Linked DNA regions of Homo sapiens. The protein of the gene in region 1 interacts with the protein of each later gene in a pairwise test. Each region holds a gene or a part of one and is shown in the gene's direction. Other genes may lie near its edges.

What was found.
Region 2: the proteins of CNR2 (region 1) and TMEM86A interact in binary tests that used the Homo sapiens proteins (3 or more experiments, as listed by UniProt).
Region 3: the proteins of CNR2 (region 1) and TMPPE interact in binary tests that used the Homo sapiens proteins (3 or more experiments, as listed by UniProt).

The regions. Positions count from the first base shown.
Region 1 is NC_000001.11:23,910,339-23,917,359, reverse strand, and holds the start of CNR2 (cannabinoid receptor 2), read left to right. Parts: upstream 1-3,997; 5' UTR 3,998-4,114; intron 4,115-7,021. UniProt on the Homo sapiens protein: Heterotrimeric G protein-coupled receptor for endocannabinoid 2-arachidonoylglycerol mediating inhibition of adenylate cyclase. May function in inflammatory response, nociceptive transmission and bone homeostasis.
Region 2 is NC_000011.10:18,693,944-18,701,778, forward strand, and holds the start of TMEM86A (lysoplasmalogenase TMEM86A), read left to right. Parts: upstream 1-4,835; 5' UTR 4,836-4,943; coding exon 4,944-4,964; intron 4,965-6,989; coding exon 6,990-7,254; intron 7,255-7,629; coding exon 7,630-7,835. UniProt on the Homo sapiens protein: Catalyzes the hydrolysis of the vinyl ether bond of choline or ethanolamine lysoplasmalogens, forming fatty aldehyde and glycerophosphocholine or glycerophosphoethanolamine, respectively and is specific for the sn-2-deacylated (lyso) form of plasmalogen.
Region 3 is NC_000003.12:33,089,922-33,094,176, reverse strand, and holds the end of TMPPE (transmembrane protein with metallophosphoesterase domain), read left to right. Parts: coding exon 1-1,343; 3' UTR 1,344-3,755; downstream 3,756-4,255.

The DNA.
Region 1 (7,021 bases):
TCCTGGGCTCACATGACCCTCCTGCCTCAGCCTCCTGAGTAGCTGTGAGTACAGGCATACATCACCATGCCCAGCTAATTTTTTATTTTTTGTAGAGACAGGGTCTCGCTATGTTGCCTGGGCTGGTCTCGAACTCCTGGGCTCAAGCAATCCTTCCTTCCTCCTCGGTCTCCCACAGGCCTGGGATTACGGACATGAGCCACCATGCCTGGCTTTGAACCATCTTAGGGTCAGTTGGTTCAGACAGTGCAAAGACTGCTTCCCTGTGGCCTGACAGGAAAAGTATACCTCTCGGGAATGTTCCTCCTCAGATCAGACCCTCAATATGACAGCACTCGGCCCCAGCATGGGGTAGATCCATCCTGTAGATGGCGGCATCTCACAGTACAAGGGCTGCTGAGGCCAGCTCTACCCAAGGAGCTGAGAAAACCGCCTCCTAAACCCTCACCTACAATTGCTCCTGGCCCTCCCAGGGCAAAAAGAGAACAGACTTCCCCTGTGGGCCCCATCAGCCCTGCCCAGGGGACTGAGAGATCATGGAGCTTCCTTATTGATTCTCTTGTCCAGTGCTGCCCATAGGGAGTCCAAGGACCGACAGCATCTGCTTCCCCTGGGAATTAGTTAGAAATGCAGATTCTTGGGCCCCATCCCAGAATACTGAATCAGAATCTCTGGGAGTGGGGCCCAGCAATCTGTGTTTTGGGGTTTTGTTTTTCAAGTCAAGGTTCTCTCTCTGTCACCCAGCCTGGAGTGCAGTAGCATAATCAGAGCTCACTATAACCTCAAACTCCTGAGTTCAGGCAAGACCTCCTCCCGCCTCAGCCTCCCAGAATGCTGGGATTACGGGCATGAGCCTCCTCACCCGGCCCCAATCTGTGTTTTAACAGGCCCTGTGGGTGACTTCCATGCACTCAGGCGTTTCAGGGGCACCTGTTATCTCCAACTTCCTCATTTTAGGAATGGAGAAATTGAGAACAGATACAGGAAGCAACTTGTTGGTCAGCCAGGCAATGGCAGAGACCACACAAAAACTCCGCTTCCCAGCGTTCCTTCCACTTGAACTTTCAGTAACTTCCTTTCTTTCTTCCTTCGTTCATTCATTCCTTCACTCATTCATGCCTTCCACCTCCAATTACATGCTTTGGGCTGCAATGGAGGACCAGGCGTTTGGGGACAGCCTCACCCTTCTTCCCCATGTGGGGCTTTCTCAAGGCCAGAGGTCTAGGATTCAGGATTGTGGAAGCATCTGCTAGATCTCTTCCAGCTCACCCCTGGGTCTCCAATTCCAGCCCAGATAGGAGTCTGATGTAGGCTGCAGGCGGGCCCCACTCCCCAGCTCCTTCTGGTCTTCTTTTCCTCTTTCTTGGCACCTGGGGCTCTCTGTCCCATTCCTCACTGCCAATGTCTTGCTCTTGGGAGAGATGCAAGGGCTGGAGGCTGTTACTGTTCCATTTCCCAAAGGGATGAATGATCAAATTAAAGGCCCTTCCCAGCAATGGCTTTGCGCTGAAGGAGCCAGGACTAGGTCCAGACCAGGGTTCGCAAGTTAGCATCTTGAGCTGGATAATTCCTTGCTGTAGGGCTGTCCTGTGCATTGCAGAATGGTTAGCAGCATTCCTGGCCTCTCCCTAGCAGATGTCAGTAGAATTCCTCCACCAGGTTGTGACAACCAAAAATGTCTCCAGATATTGCCAAGTGTCCCCTCTGGGTGGTGTTGCCAGATAAGACAGAGAATGCCTGGTTACATTCTTTTTTTTCTTTTTCTTTTTTCTTTTTTTTTTTTTTTTGAGACAGAGTCTCACTCTGGAGCCCAAGCTGGAGTGCAGTAAGGCGATCTCGGCTCCCTGCAACCTCCGCCTCTGTGGCTCAAGCATTTCTCATGCCTCAGCCTCCTGAGTAGCTGGGACTACAACTACGCACCACCACACCCAGCTAATTTTTTGTATTTTAGTAGAGATGAGGTTTCACCATGTTGCCCAGGGTGGTCTTGAACTCTTGATCTCAGGCAGTCCATCTGCCTCTGCCTCCCAAAGTGCTGGGATAACAGGCGTGAGCCACCACGCTAGGCTGAGCATTCTAATCGCACATAAGCAACAAGTAATTTTTAGTGCCTGAATGTCTCAACTATTGTTGCATTACCTCACATACTTATTTTTGTGGTGAGAACACTTAAAATCTACTCTCCATCATCTTCAAGAATATAATTCATTGGGCCAGGTGGGGTGGCTCATGCCTGTAACATTTTTTACTTGAAGAATCTTGCAACTCTACCTCAGGGGCAAAATCTTTCTTCATTGGCCCAGATCAGGGTCTGGGGTGTGGGGAGCAGTTAGTGAGAGGATCTGATGAGATAATCATAGGCCATGAGTTTACAAGGGCAAAAACTTTGCCATAATCATCTCTGTATCCTTAGAATATAATGGCGTCTCATTAAATATTTTATCTGAGAGTGGGTGTGAGGACACTTGGAACTATATCAGATACCATACCTGAGTACATCCAGCCCAGGACTGGACATTAGGGACATACTCCCTAATAAATATAAACTGAAGATAATGTTTAGTTTGACTCACATAGCATTTTTTAAAGGTGTGACTTTGGGCTTTACATTCTAAAATTGGCAACTGGCTGAGCATGGTGGCTCATGCCTGTAATCCCAACACTTTTGGAGACTGAGGCGGGAGGATTTGCTTGAGCCCAGGAGTTCAAAACCAAGCTAGGCAACATAGTGAGACCCCCATCTATACAAAAAAATTAAAAAAAAAAAATAGCCAGGTGTGGTGGCACATGCCTGTTCTGCCGGCTACCTGGAAGGCTGAGATGGGAGGATCACTGGAACCCAGGAATTTGAGGCTGCAGTGAACTATGATCGTGCCGCTGTACTCCAGCCTGGGCAACAGAGCGAGACCCTGCCTCAAAAAATTAAAATAAAATAAAATAAAGTAAAATAAAATAAACAGGAAGTGGCTGGGCGTGGTGACTCACCCTGTAATCCTAGCACTTTAGGAGGCCAAGGTGGGTGGATCACTTGAGGTCAGGAGTTCAAGACCAGCATGGTCAACATGGCAAAACCCTGTCTCTACTAAAACTACAAATTAGCTGGAGGTGGTTGTGTGCACCTGTAGTCCCAGCTACTCAGGAGGCTGAGGCAGGAGAGTTGCTTGAACCCAGGAGGCAGAGGTTGCAGTGAACCGAGATTGCGCCATTGCACTCCAGCCTGGGCAATAGAGCGAGACTTGGTCTCAAAACAAAAACAAACAAACAAAAAACAAAACACACACACACACACACACACAGGAAGCTATCACATAAGTCAAGATTTCTGGTATCTCTTGAAAAATACAGCACAACTTCCAAATGCTTGGAATATCTGACAATTTGCCTATACTCCCAAGCAGAAAAGCTTGGCTGGAACTAAGAGGTACCTGCCCCTCTCTACTGGCCCAGATCAGGGTCTGGGGTGTGGGGCAGATACCTCTCAGCTGGGCCAGTAGAGAGGGTCAGGTACCTCTCAGCTCCAGCCAAGCTTTTCCACTTGGGTCCTGTGTTCCCCCTATTACCCACAGTCCCTACCACTCCCTATTGCCCCACACCAGGATCCATCACCCATTATGTTAATCTGCCTGTAGGCATTTGCATTTCAAAGCTCTGGCCTAGTGGTGAAGAGGCATTGGAATGGCATGTCCTTTTAGGTGATCTACTGTAATGTTGGTGCATTATCCCCATTTTACAGATAAAGAAACTTGCCTTTGGGGAAGTTAAGTGAATCAACATTTTAACGAGGCTGTATTAGAACCCAAGTCCCTTGACTCCAGGGTCTAGGCCCATGCCCCACCCTGGCCAGAGTTCGTTGTAAGAGATAACTCAACCGCAGGGGCAAGAGCATTGTGGCACCAGGGACCTGGAGGGGAAGTGGTAACAGGCACGGAAGGCCAGACCTCCTCACACTCACTCATCTGTGAGAAAGTACAAAAGCAAGAGAAAGCTGGCTTGGGGTGGCACTCAACAGGTGCTCTGAGTGGCACCCACGGCCAGGTCCTGGGAGAGGACAGAAAACAACTGGGACTCCTCAGCCCCCGGCAGCTCCCAGTGCCCAGCCACCCACAACACAACCGTGAGTAGCTTTTTTTGTTGTTTATTTTAGGCTTCTTCCTCATTCCCCAACACCTGTATTCTTTTTTGTTTGTTTGTTTGTTTTTGAGACGGAGTTTTGCTCTGTTGACCAGGCTAAAGTACAGTGGCACAATCTCGGCTCAGTGCAGCCTCACAGGTTCAAGCGATTCTCCTGCCTCAGCCTCCCGTGTAGTTGGGATTACAGGTGTGCACTACTGCGTCTGGCTAATTTTTGTATTTTTAGTAGAGACAGGGTTTCACCATGTTGGCCAGGCTGGTCTCGAACTCCCGACTTCAGGTGATCTGCCCACCTTGGCCTCCCAAAGTGCTGGGATTACAGGCATGAGCCACTGCACCTGGCCAAAACCTGTATTCTTACCTTATCCCTTCCCTCCAGGGACACAAGAAGCCAGGTGGGCCTGTCTGGGGCAGGGGATAGATGTCATTTCAGGACACCTGGGGTTGTGGAGGACCAGTCGCAGGAAAGTTCAGGGCTGGCATCCCCCTCCTAGGACCAAGAATCAGGACTTTGGCTTTCATTTCATTACAGAGACAAGAATCACACACACAGAGATGGCCTTACTGTGTGCCAGGCGCTGCCCTAAGAGCCTTTAGTGGTTGGATTTATTTAATCCTCACAACAGCCGTATGCAGTAGGAGCTATCACTGTTGTCCACTTGATAGGTGGGGGCTAGGTGACCCACCTGAAATCATGCGGGCATTGAATGAGAGCATTGGCTTGAGCCTAGGCACTCCGGCTTCGCGGCCCACCCTTCAGCCACCAGGCTATCCTGCCTTACGAGGTGTGGACTGCAACAGTAGATGGGGGCCAGGAAATGACAGGGGCTGGCAGAGGCCTTTGAGATGACCAGGTGAGTCCTGCGCTCTCATTTTATAGATGGGGAGACCACAAGGTAGTGTTAGGGGCACACTGGACTCAGGAGGCCAGGGGTCTGCTTTGGTGTAAGTTCCACTCAGCGGAGGGAAGAGCAGTATTTTCCAGTGTGCCCTGGGGTCAGCGTCCAGGTCTGAATCCCAGCTCTGCCACTGGTAGCTCGATGGCCTAATGCAAATCACTCCATTTCTTTCCTGCTCAGCTTCCTCTTCTGAGAAACATGGGCCTGAGAAGGTCACTCACAGGCTTGTTGCGAGTCAACTGTCTGATGCGGGCACAGGGCGGGCAGCAGCACAGGGCTCGGGAATGGCTGTGGTGGAGAGTTTGATCTTCACCCCATCTGCTCTTGCTGTGGATCTGAGATGAGGATAAAATGAGGCCTGGCTGCTTTTCCCTGGAATGAGTGGCAAGTAGACACGTTGGCAGCATGAAAACCAGGATGGAGGCTGGGGAGAAGTTCAGGGAGAGCTCAGGAGGTGGAGTCCCAATAATCCTGGCCCCAGCTCTGTAACCACCTTGTGGCTTACCAGAGTGACCCCCTAACCTGCGCTGGGCAGGTGAAGCATATCCTTTACCCTTTGGCCGGCTAAGGCCAGGATAAGGCAGTGAAGACGGGAAAATGGCAGCCTGGCTCAGCCAAGCAGAGCCCTCCAGCGCCAGCCCCCTCTCTTCCCACCTCATTTTACAGTACCAGTCACTCTTACTGCACACCCTCGGGTGTGCATAAATTGATCTTTTCTTTATTCAGTTGAAGTCACATTCAATAGGACCCTGAGCCTCATCCTACTGGGCTAGGAGGAAATTTAATCTCCAAGTGCACTGAGCTTCCCTCACTCCCATCCCCACCCATGCACATTGACCCAGAGGACACACAGAACATAAGCGTGAGGGAGGCTCCTGGGTCCTCCTACGATGGATGCCCATTGCCCAAATGGACTTGATTGTCTGAAGTCCAGCCTTGCCCACTTCCCTGGCATGCCTGGAGTCCAGATTCTTTGTAAGACCTGAAACCACTGTGTCTCATTTTGACATCCAGGATATATCACCCAGTGACTTCCCCCAGAGGTCCTGCCATCTTCCCAGAAAGCAAATTCTAGGTGCCCAAGACCTCGGTCCCCTCCCAGCCAAGGACAATCTCTCCTCTCCCCTTGGCTGTGGATGGCAGATGGACACTCTTCTCTCCCCACCCCCCACCCACGTGACCTAACCTTCTCACTGCGCTCAGGTTCTCAGGAAAGGACAGGAAGAAGGGTTGTCTTCAAATAGCTTCTGCTTCCTACTCTCACCCCTGAAAAAAGTCCCCGAGCCACGAGACACAAAGGGCACTCTGAAAAGAGACAGGCAGCCCTATCTTACAGATGAGAAAAACCAAGACTCAGCAGCAGTGTTGACTTGCTCAGTGTCACACAGCCAAGGAATAGCGGAGCCAGTGTGAGCAGAGAGTCCTGCGCTGTGGGTTCAGAGCTTGTGCTATCAATCACATGGAATCACATGGAAACCCAAGTCTCCCTCATCAATTACTCAGGCAACCTGGGGCAAGTTACATCACCTTTCTGAACCTCAGTTTCTTCAACTCTAAAAATGACGCTATCATAGCATTCCCAACCTGCCTCAAAGGGGCTCTTGTTTTTTGTTTTTTGTTTTTTTGTTTTGTTTTCTTTTCTTTTCTTTCTTTTTTTTTTTTTTTTTTTTTTTTTGAGACAGCGTTTTGCTCTTGTTGCCCAGGCTGGAGTATAATGGCGTAATCTCAGCTCATTGCAACCTCTGCCTCCTGGGTTCAAGCGATTCTCCTGCCTCAGCCTCCCAAGTAGCTGGGATGACAGGCATGCACCACCACGCCCGGCTAATTTTGTATTTTTAGTAGGGATGGGGTTTCTGCATGTTGGCCAGGCTGGTCTCGAGCTCCCGATCTCAGGTGATCCGCTCTTGTTTTTTTCTTAAGCGAAGATTGATGAAGCATTTACTACACATTTGAGCTCTGTGACCGTTCCTCATTAAGTCCTCACCACAGCC
Region 2 (7,835 bases), on another chromosome or scaffold:
TCCTTACAACTCAACAACTGACGCCCTCACACTGTTATCAGAACATCTGACCTTGTCACACCCTCCTTAACATCTCTGATTTCTTCGACATATCTGCAGGTGGGGTGGGGGTGGAATCGGGTATGTGTGGTGACCCTGAGAGTTGGTTAAAAGTGCTCTGGAGGCTGGGTGCAGTGGCTCACACCTGTAATCCCAGCACTTTGGGAGGCCGAAGCGGGCGGATCATGAGATCAGGAGATCGAGACCATCCTGGCTAACATGGTGAAACCCCATCTCTACTAAAAATACAAAAAGTTAGCTGGATGTGGTGGTGGGCGCCTGTAGTCTCAGCTACTCGGGAGGCTGAGGCAGCAGAATGGCGTGAACTGGAGAGGCGGGGCTTGCAGTGAGCTGAGATTGCGTCACTGCACTCTAGCTTGGGCGACAGAGCGAGACTCTGTCTCAAAAAAAAAAAAAAAAAAAAGTGCTCTGGAGGCCTGAAACAGAAAAGAAATTAGCTGAGATCCAGCATCAGGTTGGGAATAAGATAATCAGTTTAGGGCTGGATTATGATTTCAAGCAGGACAAACTAAGTGAGGAAAAATATCCTGTGGCAAAACAACAGAGGTCAGAGATGAAGGAGGCCACTGGGTGAGAAGAAGCCCCATGGGGGAAGCGAGGCAAGCTCAGAATGATGATGGGTCATCATTTCTGTGCATTGCCCATGTCGCTGGTGGATGACAGCGGGCACAATTAGAGATGCTAAGGAACAGAGGACAATTGGTTTAGTGTCATCTACTATGTCAAGTCTAAACTTCTTAGTAGAACCTTCATTTTTATTTTTATTTATCTATTTATTTTGAGACAGAGTCTTGCTCTTGTTGCCCAGGCTGGAGTGCAGTGGCACAATCTCGGTTCACTGCGACCTCTGCCTCTTGGGTTCAAGCGATTCTCCAAGTAGCTGGGATTGAAGGTGCCCACCACCACACCCAGCTAATTTTTTTTATTTTTAGTAGAGACGGGGTTTCATCATGTTGGCCAGGCTGGTCTTGAACTCCTGACCTCAGGTGATCTGCCCACCTTGGCCTCTGAAAGTGCTGGGATTACAGGCATGAGCCACCGCGCCTGGCTGAGTAGAATCTTCAAGATCTGAGTTGGCTCATGCTTCTTCAGTTTCACCTTCTCACTCCCCAGCTCGAATCAGTACTACAGATATTTCCCTGAATTCAGTGTGTCTCTTGTGCTCTTATGTACACATGCAATTCCCTCTGCCTAGAATGGCATATACATTGGTGTCTGCTCAATAAAGACTAACTCGTTCTTCTAGATTTAACTCTAGCTCCTGCAATTGCTCCAGGTGTAATTTATAATTCTGATGTCTTTTTTTAATGCCACCTGTGACACCTTCATACTTCATTAGGTCAGCTACCACATTGAATAATTGTTTACTTGCCTGTCTGAAATGAACTGTGAGCTCCATAAGGATAGAGAATATATTTTACTCAATATTTTACACCCCAGAACCTAATACAGTGGTTAGCACATATTAGGTGCACTGTAAACATTTGTTGGATGAATGAGTGAGTGAATGGGCTCACAAGCACAGGGAAAATTACAAAGCTGTGTGAAAAGGGCCATGCCAATAGGTTGGAAAGGAAGAAATGCCAGTTCCTACCAAAAGGGAGAAATGCCCATTTTCAGGAAGCCTTATCCCACTTTCTGCCTCCTGCAATATGCAATTCAAAATAAAAACACTAGTAAATAGTAAACACTAGTAAATAGTAAATGAAAATTTACTTTTGAAACAACAAATCTCAACCATATGAATGAAGTCAGAATAAGCTCTTTCTCTTTGGGAAGAGGGTGGTGCCCTTGCTTTGTGGGTGCCTATATCAGCCAGGGTACTGGCACACTCAATAATTTAACTGAAGAGAATTTAATGACTATTTGCAGAGACGAAACTAGCCATGGGTGAGGAGGCACCTAAAGACTAGCAATAGCACTGGGCACAGTAGCTCATGCCTGTAATCCCAGCACTTTGGGAGGCCGAGGCGGGTGGATCACCTGAGGTCAGGAGTTCGAGAGCAGCCTGACCAACATGGTAAAACCCCATCTCTACTAAAAATACAAAATTAGCCGGGCGTGGTGGCACATACCTGTAATCCCAGCTACCAGGGAAGCTGAGGCAGGAGAATCGCTTGAACCCAGGAGGCAGAGGTTGCAGTGAGCATAGATCACACCACTGCATGGCAGCCTGGGGGACAGAGCAAGACCCTGTCTCAAAAAAAAAAAAAAAAAAAAAAGACTAGCAACAGCAGGAAACTGTTGCCACCCCTGGCCTGAAGGTATGGGGAGGGAGCCTGGGGCTGTAGCCATGGAGAAGCAGGCCACAGCCAGAATCTCAGCCTGGTCCATCAGGCCTCGTCCATGTTCTCATCTCCTGCCTCTGAATTTCATTGGCTGAACTCAGCCAGAAGCCAGGGCCCTGGTGATCCCTGAAGATACAGTCCATAGAGCTCAGGCTCCCAGGACAGGGTAGAGAAGAGCCAAGAATGAATCTAGGTGGTGGGAAGGCAAATGGAGAAAAACCGGCATTGAGGGGGGATGCCTCTGCTTTGTAGGCGACTTGTGTATATGATTAGTTTGCCTACTGGGTAATCAAGCACTGAGTGGAACCCTGTAGATGGGAGTTCTAAGTCTCATGTTTTGTATTGTTAGGTATTTGTATGTGCAAGCTTCTTAGAACTGGTGCCACTAATTAGTAGGTCTTGGGTGGGGCAACGGCATCTATGTTTTTAAAAGCTTTCCAAGTAATTTTGATAGGTACCACTTGTTGAGAACCACGGATATAGTCCACCTTCTCATTTTTATAGAGAGGCAAACTAAGGTCTAGAGAAATGAAAAATGCCCTGACTTGGCAAATTTCTGTTTGAGAACTATCCCTCAGGTGATGTTAGAGGGTTTGGCTGGAAAACTGGAATATTTGCACCTTCTACTAGCCCATTTCCTCCATTTTATTCATGAGAAATCTGAAGCTCCAAAGATGGAATGATGTGCTCAATTATACACCACAGTAGTGAGTCATGGAGAAGGAAGCACTAGGACTAAGAATGGCATTTCTAACTCTCAAGCCAGTGTTCTCTCTAGGCAGCACACTTGGTAGAAATGTGTGTGTGTGTGTGTGTGAGTGACAAAGCCCTGGGGCAGCAGTTATAGTCCTTCATTCTGGTAAGGTGCTCTCCCCAAAGCCCCTAACTGGAAAGAAAGAGGAGTAGGCAGAGGTCATTGACCCTTAGAACTCTATGCTGGAGGGGACTGGAGGGGATGGGGGGAAGATCTGGGTGACTCCTGTCCCAAGCCTTGACTCTCACTCTTGTTGTACTGGACTCTGAATCTCTGGTTGCCAATTCTGTCACCAGAAGAGGACTATCACCCCTCTGAATGGGTGTTGGGACTTTAGGGAAAACTGGGTAGGATCCAGAAGGAAAAGGAAGAGACCCATTGTGGGAGGGGCTTACAGGAGACTTCAGCCTGTCGGTCTCTGCCCAAACAGCACAAGGCTCAGGACCAGCACAAGGGCCTGTGTCACCATGCCAGGATGTTTGAAACTCCTTTTTGGCTGCTAATTAGGGCTGGTCACCCCTTTCCCATCAATTCCCAAAGCCTGACACACAGCTACTGCCCTTCTACAGTAGCTTACAGACTACTTGCCCATCCTTTGAGATACAGCTGAAATCTCCATCTCCAGGATTGCTAGACTTAAATTTCCTAAAACCAGCAGCCCTTCCTCTTCCCCAACCTACACATGTCAGAGTTGGGTGGAACCTTAGAACTCACCCGCTCATCTTCTAAGTGAGGAAATCAAGACCAGAGAGGGGAAGTGATTCACCCAATCTAACAGCATGGAAGTGGCAAAACTGGGACTAGATTTCAGTCCATCTGGCCACCTACCTCTCCATGTAATTCCAATGATTCTGAACATGCACCGCTCTGAATGAGCTTGTGTTCCTTTAGTCTACGTAAAATCAACATTAAATCCACTTGGGACGTATTTTTGGCAAAGTTAGCTCACGCTTCTTTGGGTCTGCCTGTCTGTCATTCTTGGGGTGCTCTTGTATGTGTGGCAGTGGTCTCTGAGTTGTAAGAGGTGTGTGCCTACGGCCAATTATCTGTGTTTGTTTCTATATTAGGGTCATGGGTCTACGAGCTGCTGTAGAGTCCCTGTATATGTCTCTTTTCTTACATGGAGCATATATGTCAATTTGTGGTTGTTGGTTTTGGATCTGTGTACTTGTTGAGTGCTTAAGGGTAATTATGATTCTGTATGTGTGATGTATATGCTACGATTATGGGTCCATGGCTGCTGCATACCTATATACGTGCCGCTTTTCAAGTCGAAGGTTGTGTGTTTGCTGATGATTTGGATGTGTGTTTGTACACAGTGAAGGTTGTGAGTCCAATTGCAATCGTATCGGCGTGGACTGCATGTTTAAAGGCTTAAGGGAATCTGTCTTTGCCTTTTGCTCCCGGGTTATGAGAAAATGTATGTGGCTGTGCGTCCAGGACAGCAATGTGTTTGTCTCTCAGCCAAGCTCAGTCCTCACCCAGGCACCGGGGTCACGGTCACGTTCACGTTCCGTGGACGCCTTGGCACGGCCTCCCAAGGGGGCGGGGCCTGGGGGGTATCCGCCTTCTGACCCCTGGGAGATGCCTCCTTTCTCCGAGCAGCAGCCGGGGGCCTGGCCGGCGCCGCCAGCCGGGCCCCGCCCCCCCGGCTCCCGCCCGCTCATTGGCCCTGGCAGCGGTGACGTCACGGGGCTAGCTGACAGAACCCCGGCGCCGGGCGCTCGGGAGGTATTGTCCGTCCCTCCGGGCTTTGTAGAATCGTCGCCGGCTTACCTGGCCGTGGGCGCGTCCTGGCCGCTGCAGCCCGGAGCAGGGTGCCAGCCGCCGCCGCCGCCGCCATGGTGTCCCCGGTCACTGTGGTGAGTGAGCGAGCGAGCGAGCCAGTGCCCGGCGCGGCTGGAGCCCACCGGCCTGGCCACCGGACTTCGGCAGGCCGAGCTGCCGAAGGGGCCGAGGCGGGGCGGGGGTCCCGTGGCGGCCGGAGTCCCGCGGCGGGAGGCGGGCGCTGTCACCGCCCCCCGCTCCTCAGACTCGCGGCGCCCCTCCTCGCGCGCCCCCAGCCCGCCCGCGGAGGGAGGAAAACACTGGCCACGTGACTCGGAAGCGTGACTTTGTTGATCTCCATGTATTTGGCGCGGGTCGGCGGGGTCGCGGCCCGGGAGAGGGAGGGGACCGCTGCCGGCCGCAGAGTTCCGCGTAGGCGGACCACAGGGAGGCGTGGGGGCGGGGGATGCTGGGAGGATAACAGGGACCTCCTGGGAATGCCGTCCCAAGTTTGTTTCCTAACCTTCCTCATTTTGTAAACAAGTTGGCGGACGCCCCTGAGTCTAAGAAGCGCTGATAACGCGCTGGGGGAAAAGGGGGCATTCTCTATGACATCCCCTGCTTTTCAGACTTTCTCAACTTGAACCTTTTGTTTCGTCTCCCCATCCTCCTTATTCTACTACTGGGTTCCCTATAACTGTCAGGGTCTCTCCAGCTACTGCCAGTATCTCCTTCTAGAAAATATGGGGCTGGGAGAGGCCATGGAGCGGAGGTTAATGCTCCCAGGGGCTGGCAGGTGGTTGCTGGGCATTGTGGGCCTGGGCATCCCCTCCAGCCGCCTCCTCTGACCATGCCCCTACCCTGACCAGCCTTAATTTCCATGGGAAGTGGAAGTCATCTCTTCTCACTGCTCTTACCTCTGGCAGAACAAGGAAAGGCTTGGACCCTGGAACCACCCATCCGCCTCTTCCCAATCCTCCTCATCACAGTCTGATCAGTCCTTAGGTACCTGGTCGTCTGGACTCTGAGTGTTTCCCAAGTCCTGTGCTGGGCAGCTCACCTAGCCAGAGACACAATCGCTTTGGGCAGAGTGTGGGTGTACAGGGAACTCCAGCTGCTCCATATCACCCTCAATGGATCTGTTAGCAGCCCAAGGAAAGGAGTTTCAAGGATCACAGATTCAGAACATCGCTGCAGCCCCCTCCCCCAGCTTGGACTCTGCCTGCAGTGGCCTTGGGTACAACCTTTCTTTAGCTGCCCTCTGCTAATCCGGCTGAGACCAAGTCAGCTGCTCTAACTTCCCCCTCTCAGTTCCCCATCTCCCAGCCTGTCTGCTGGCTCCAGATCAGAAGCTGGGAATAGAACCTCTCCCCCCTTTCCTGCCTCTTTCTGGTGTGGCTTGAGTTGCTCTTGTTCTCTGGGAAATGAGGCTGACTGACACACACCCTCCCTTCCCCCAATCCTTGAAATCTTTGGTGTTTGAAGGACAATTTTCTTGCTCCCAACTCATGGGTCCATTTATCTAGCCAGCATCCCTAGCATAGCCCTCCTTGCCCTTGATGCCACCTTCAGGCTGGGGCAGGTGGAGTGGAGGCTGAGGAACAGACTGGTTGAGGAGGAGAGAGGCTGTGGTGGCTGAGGTGATTGCCATTGCCTGCTTTCCCACATTCCTGGCACACACCTGGTGTTGCCAGGGCCCTAAGGCTGCACCCTGGCCCCATGCTGAGGATCACGAGTTGGCCAGTCAGGGTGTCTCTGTGGTTTCCCACTGACTTCACTCCATTCCAGAGTGAACAGCTGGGGGCTGTTGCTGGCAGAGAGGAGGGGCTAAAGGGGCCCTGAGGAGGGAGAAGGAGGGGGCAGGAAGGGAGAAGCACACTAGGCTGCAGAAGGGTGCCCCTCCTAATATACTGAGCCTCAGGGCAGTAATGGGTTTGGCCACAACCTGCTGGCTGGTAGAGGCAGGCCAGGCTGGGTTTCTCTGTGTCAGTCTTCTCAGGTTGGGGGTGGAAGTGAGGTGGGGGTATGGATGGGAGTGTCTCTGGGGTGGATGCCTAGGCTGAGGGTGCTGGCTTTCAACCCCCAAGTTCTGAGTGCTGCCCTTGTCCTGTGTCCTCCAGGTGAAGAGTGAAGGACCCAAACTGGTGCCGTTCTTCAAGGCCACCTGCGTGTATTTTGTGCTCTGGCTGCCCTCATCTAGCCCATCGTGGGTCAGCACCCTCATCAAGTGCCTGCCTATCTTCTGCCTCTGGCTCTTCCTTCTGGCCCATGGCCTGGGATTCCTGCTGGCCCACCCCAGCGCCACCCGCATCTTTGTGGGGCTTGTCTTCTCTGCTGTAGGTGACGCCTTCCTCATCTGGCAGGACCAAGGATACTTCGTGCATGGTCAGTGGCCATAGTAGTTGCCTGGGAGGAGTCCTGGGGCTGGGGGATAGAGGGTCCTGGGCTGTGGGCAAAGATTTGGAAGAGGGAGTTCTTGAACCAGAGTGTGGGGAGCCTGAGGGTTTCTGAGGCCAGGGACTGTGAGGGTCCTTGTTAGGGGATGACCTCGCAGGGGAACTAGTGATCAGTTCCAGAGTCCTTCAGGGGACTGGGGTGGTGGTCTTTAACTTTAGATCTTCCTACCCCTGTTATCCCAAAGCAAAGCTGCTGGGTTATCCCAAACACTCCACTCCATCGCCACATCCATCCCTACCCCCACCCTGTTACTCATTCTTCATCAAGCTTGCCCTCAGCTGCCTTTGCCCCTCTTACCCCCAGGTCTGCTGATGTTTGCTGTGACCCACATGTTCTACGCCTCGGCCTTTGGCATGCAGCCACTGGCTCTTCGGACAGGTCTGGTGATGGCAGCGCTGTCGGGCCTGTGCTATGCCCTCCTCTACCCATGCCTCTCAGGTGCCTTCACCTACCTGGTGGGGGTCTATGTGGCCCTTATCGGCTTCATGGGCTGGCGAGCTATGGCAGGG
Region 3 (4,255 bases), on another chromosome or scaffold:
TGTCCCTAGGCGCGAAGGCCACCCTGGCTGCTGTCACTGTCTTCGTGTCCATGATCGCCTCCCGCTCGTATCTGGCAGAGAGCCTTGAGCTCAGGGCCTGGCGTTGGCTGCTTCGCTTGCAGCTTGCCCTGTTTGTCAACTCGCTCTTGCTCATTGGCTCCCTCTACATTTGGCGCAGCACAGTGAGCAACCTCTGCCACTCCCCAGCTGCAGAGTCAACCTGTTTTCAGCTTTGGAAGGTGGTGGTTCTGGCATTTCTGGCCCTGGCCCATTCCAGTTTCTTTACCATGTTCTTTTTAGTGGCCGAAGAGCCCTATCTCTTTTCCTTGGCGGCCTACTCCTGCCTGGGTGCTTACATCATCATGCTCTTCTTCCTCTTCATCCTCAGCGGCATGGAGCAGGCCTACCAGCTCTTGGCCTGGCGCAGTGGTAGGGTCGTGGGCAGCCTTGAGAAGACAAGGAAGCTCGTGCTCAGGCCTGCCCTGGCAGTGGGAGTGACTGCTGTGCTCAGCGTGGCCGGGATTCTGAATGCCGCGCAGCCCCCGGCTGTGAAAACTGTGGAGGTGCCCATCCATCAGCTGCCTGCCTCAATGAACAACCTCAAGATCGTGCTCCTCTCAGACATTCACTTGGGCCCCACAGTGGGCAGGACCAAGATGGAAATGTTTGTGAGGATGGTGAATGTGCTGGAACCAGACATCACGGTGATTGTGGGTGACCTCTCCGACTCAGAAGCCTCGGTCCTGCGGACGGCTGTCGCTCCTCTGGGCCAGCTTCATTCACATCTCGGTGCCTACTTCGTCACAGGCAATCATGAGTACTACACGTCAGATGTCAGCAACTGGTTTGCACTTCTGGAATCCCTGCATGTCCAGCCTCTTCATAATGAGAACGTGAAGATTTCCGCCACACGGGCCCAACGTGGTGGTGGTGGCAGTGGCAGTGGGAGTGAGGATGAGGACTGGATCTGCTTGGCTGGGGTGGACGATATTGAAGCAGACATCCTGCACTACTCTGGCCATGGCATGGATCTTGACAAGGCCCTGGAGGGCTGCAGCCCAGACCACACAATCATCTTGCTAGCTCACCAGCCCCTGGCTGCCAAGAGAGCTCTCCAGGCTCGGCCAGATATTAACCTGATCCTTTCTGGGCACACACATGCTGGGCAGATCTTCCCCTTGAACGTAGCAGCCTATCTCCTGAATCCCTTCTTTGCTGGTCTCTACCAGGTGGCCCAGGCTACATTCGTGTATGTCAGCCCAGGCACAGCCTACTACGGGATACCCATGAGGCTGGGTAGCAGGGCCGAGATCACAGAGCTCATCCTGCAGCGGTCTCCCTGAACTGGCCCTGCCCTGTGCACCTCTGCCCTGCCCTTGTCCTCGACCCTCCATCCTGCTTCAGAGTGGTTTGCCTGCTTTTCCCCTCCAGCCTTGCCCACTCATCCTTGCCTACACACCCTTGGTCACAAGCCTGACTCAAACAGTGACTTATGGTGGGCCTGCCTGGCATGTTCAGGCTGGTTTAACTATTTCCTTGGCCAGTTGCTTTTTTTGATGCACTTGTGAGATCACTAAGGTCACATATATTAGCACTCCCCTCTATTTTCCAGATGATGTGGAATGGGGACCTTCTCCTGCAGAGCTCCCAGGGATGAACCTCCCCTCGGGGTTGCTAGAAAGGCATACCTCTAGAAGGTGGGGCGGGGAGGAGCAGGAGCATTTTTCTCCTGGTGTTTTAAAATTGTCTTTAGGACTTAAGTGGTTTCCAGAATCATTGATCCAGAGCCTTTCTGGGGAAGGGGTAGTGTTGCCAGGTAATTTGGGAGAACAGGCAAGATGGAAGGGCCCTCTGGCTGCTAGAGAAGAATATTTTCTTTTCCTCTGATTCTATCAGGATCACCTCTATTGAGGGCATCAGCAAAATCTACTGGAATGCAAAGCTCCTCCTGTTCCAGGCCTTGAGGGATGCTATTTAACTGTCTGTGCTCCTGGGCCTTTGGGGGCAAGGTCAGGGGAGAAGAACGGTGGGCGCCATGGTCGGTGATGGTGAGAACATGGCTGCTTAGGAATTCAGAGGGCTTTGCCTCCCTTGTCTCATTTTATACAACCCTTCGGGGAGCTCACTGGGGACAGGCTGCTTTTCCCTATTTGGAGATAAGGAAACCAAGGCAAAGAGAGATAGGGCACAGGCAGTATGACAAGATATGTAGGAGATTTGGGGCTAGAAACCAGGTCTTGTACCTCCCAGTAAAAGCGGTGCTTTTGCCCTTTTGCCAGAAGCAATAGATCCTTTGATCCTGAGATGGAGATAAGCACCCGTGTTAGAAAAGGCCTCACTGAGAAGACAGGGCTGGGCTGGTTTCCTGCTGGGTGATTTAGGCTTGTGATGGAAAGTCTTCCTCCAATGGGGAGTGAAGACACTCGCTCTGACTGGAGAGGCTAACCCTGCTGCTCACTCATAGGGCAGCGTTGGGTGGGTGACTTTCCCTCACTCAGCCTTGGTTTCCATCAACCCTAAAATGGGGATAATTATCGTATCTACCTCAAGATTGTTTTGTCAGGAGGGATCCATCAAGCCTTGTGCATGAGTTCCACATGGCACAGCGTGCACAGTAAACACTCAATGTTAATTTTTCAACGTTCCAGTGGAGCTTGCTAAGGAACTCTGTTGGGCACAGGTGCCCAGAGGATTCATGGAGCAGCCAGTCCTGGGGAATGTGAGTGGGTAGCGAGCTGCCTGCTGCTGGGGCAGGTGATGTGTCAAAGCAGCAACTGCTAGGGGTTTGCCTTCCTTCCCTCATGTGCATTCTGGCAGGCAAAGGGGGTTTCTTCCTTTCCTCCTTGTCCTCCTGGTGTATAGTGGGGTTCTGGGGGATCTGGAGACCACCCTTTTTGTTCCCAGGCAGCCACGGTATTGACAGTGGGCCATACCATGCAGTTTAAAATGTATCTTTGAGTTGAAATTTTGGTGGTTTCCTTATTCTTTTTTCTCTCTTCACTGTCCTTCCAAACTCACTTTTCTTGTGTCCCGACCGCATTTTGTGAATCATCCTTACTCCCTTTAAGTTCTCGCTTTGGATTTCACCAGGTGGGCTAGATGGTGCCATTTCACTTCCACTGTTTGATGCGGCTGGTAATGTTTGACTCACCTGTTACGTGTTATTTCACTGGTTTCTTGATTTTACATCTTTCTCATCAGTGACCTGGGCTTGATGAAATTAGCTTTCATTAAGTCCTATTTTTTTTTTAATTTTGCATCCTTACCTCTTTTCTTTCTCTTGAATGCCATCATTGTGTGGTCTTATGTACCCTTCATCCACTCTGAAGTCCTTGCTTGACTGATTGCTTTCTATTAGCAGAAAGAAAACAGGTCCATCCTATGTATCTGAGAAACAACATCAACACCCTCTCGTATGTGGTTTGTATTCCCTGACGCGGCGGACATTTTTGCAGCAGAAATTTCTCCATCACTGTCCAGATTCTGGCCCTGGTGGGCAGGTCTCCATGACACCTTTAGTCCCTTTGTTCAACATTCTTAAACCATGGACCTTTTTGTTTGTTTGTGGCCGGGGGAGGTGGTGAGAAACGTTACTTGAAGCTTGATCATTCTTTCAATTTCATTTGTTTCTTTATTTTTAATCTGTTAGATGCAAATTGAAATGCAATGCTTTTTGAAAATCAGCAATAGTGTCTGTAGTATATGATGCTGTCACAAAATCTCAATAAATTGATCCTGCTGCCATTCCTTCCAAATACCCATCCATGCTTTTCTTCCCCTCGTGTTTTGTTTGGTTTGTTTTAAACTTTTCGTACATGTACCTCTCTCCCAGCTTTAACAAGCATGACGAGACCACTCTGCCATCCTTTCTCAGCTACCCCTGCCCCACCTGTACTCTTTATTTTTTGGCTGGAGTATATTAAGGTAAATCATAGAAAACATAATGTTACCCCAAAATTACTTCAGTATGAATCCTTTTTCAAAAAGCATAGCTATAGTGTCATTATCATATCCAATGAAATTAACAGTGATTCTTGAATATCATCTAATAGCTAGTTAGGAGATTTGGGGCTAGTAGCCAGATTTTTGACCTCTTTAAAGAAGTGTTCTTTCCACTCTCTGAGTATTAAGTAGCTGTATCTGTCACAAATGAGTACAGAATTCAAATGCAGTTAACTGTGTGAAGAGTTAGTGTTTAGTTTTTCCTGATTATCTCAACTATATTTTTTATTGTGGCAAAAAAATTACTATCTTA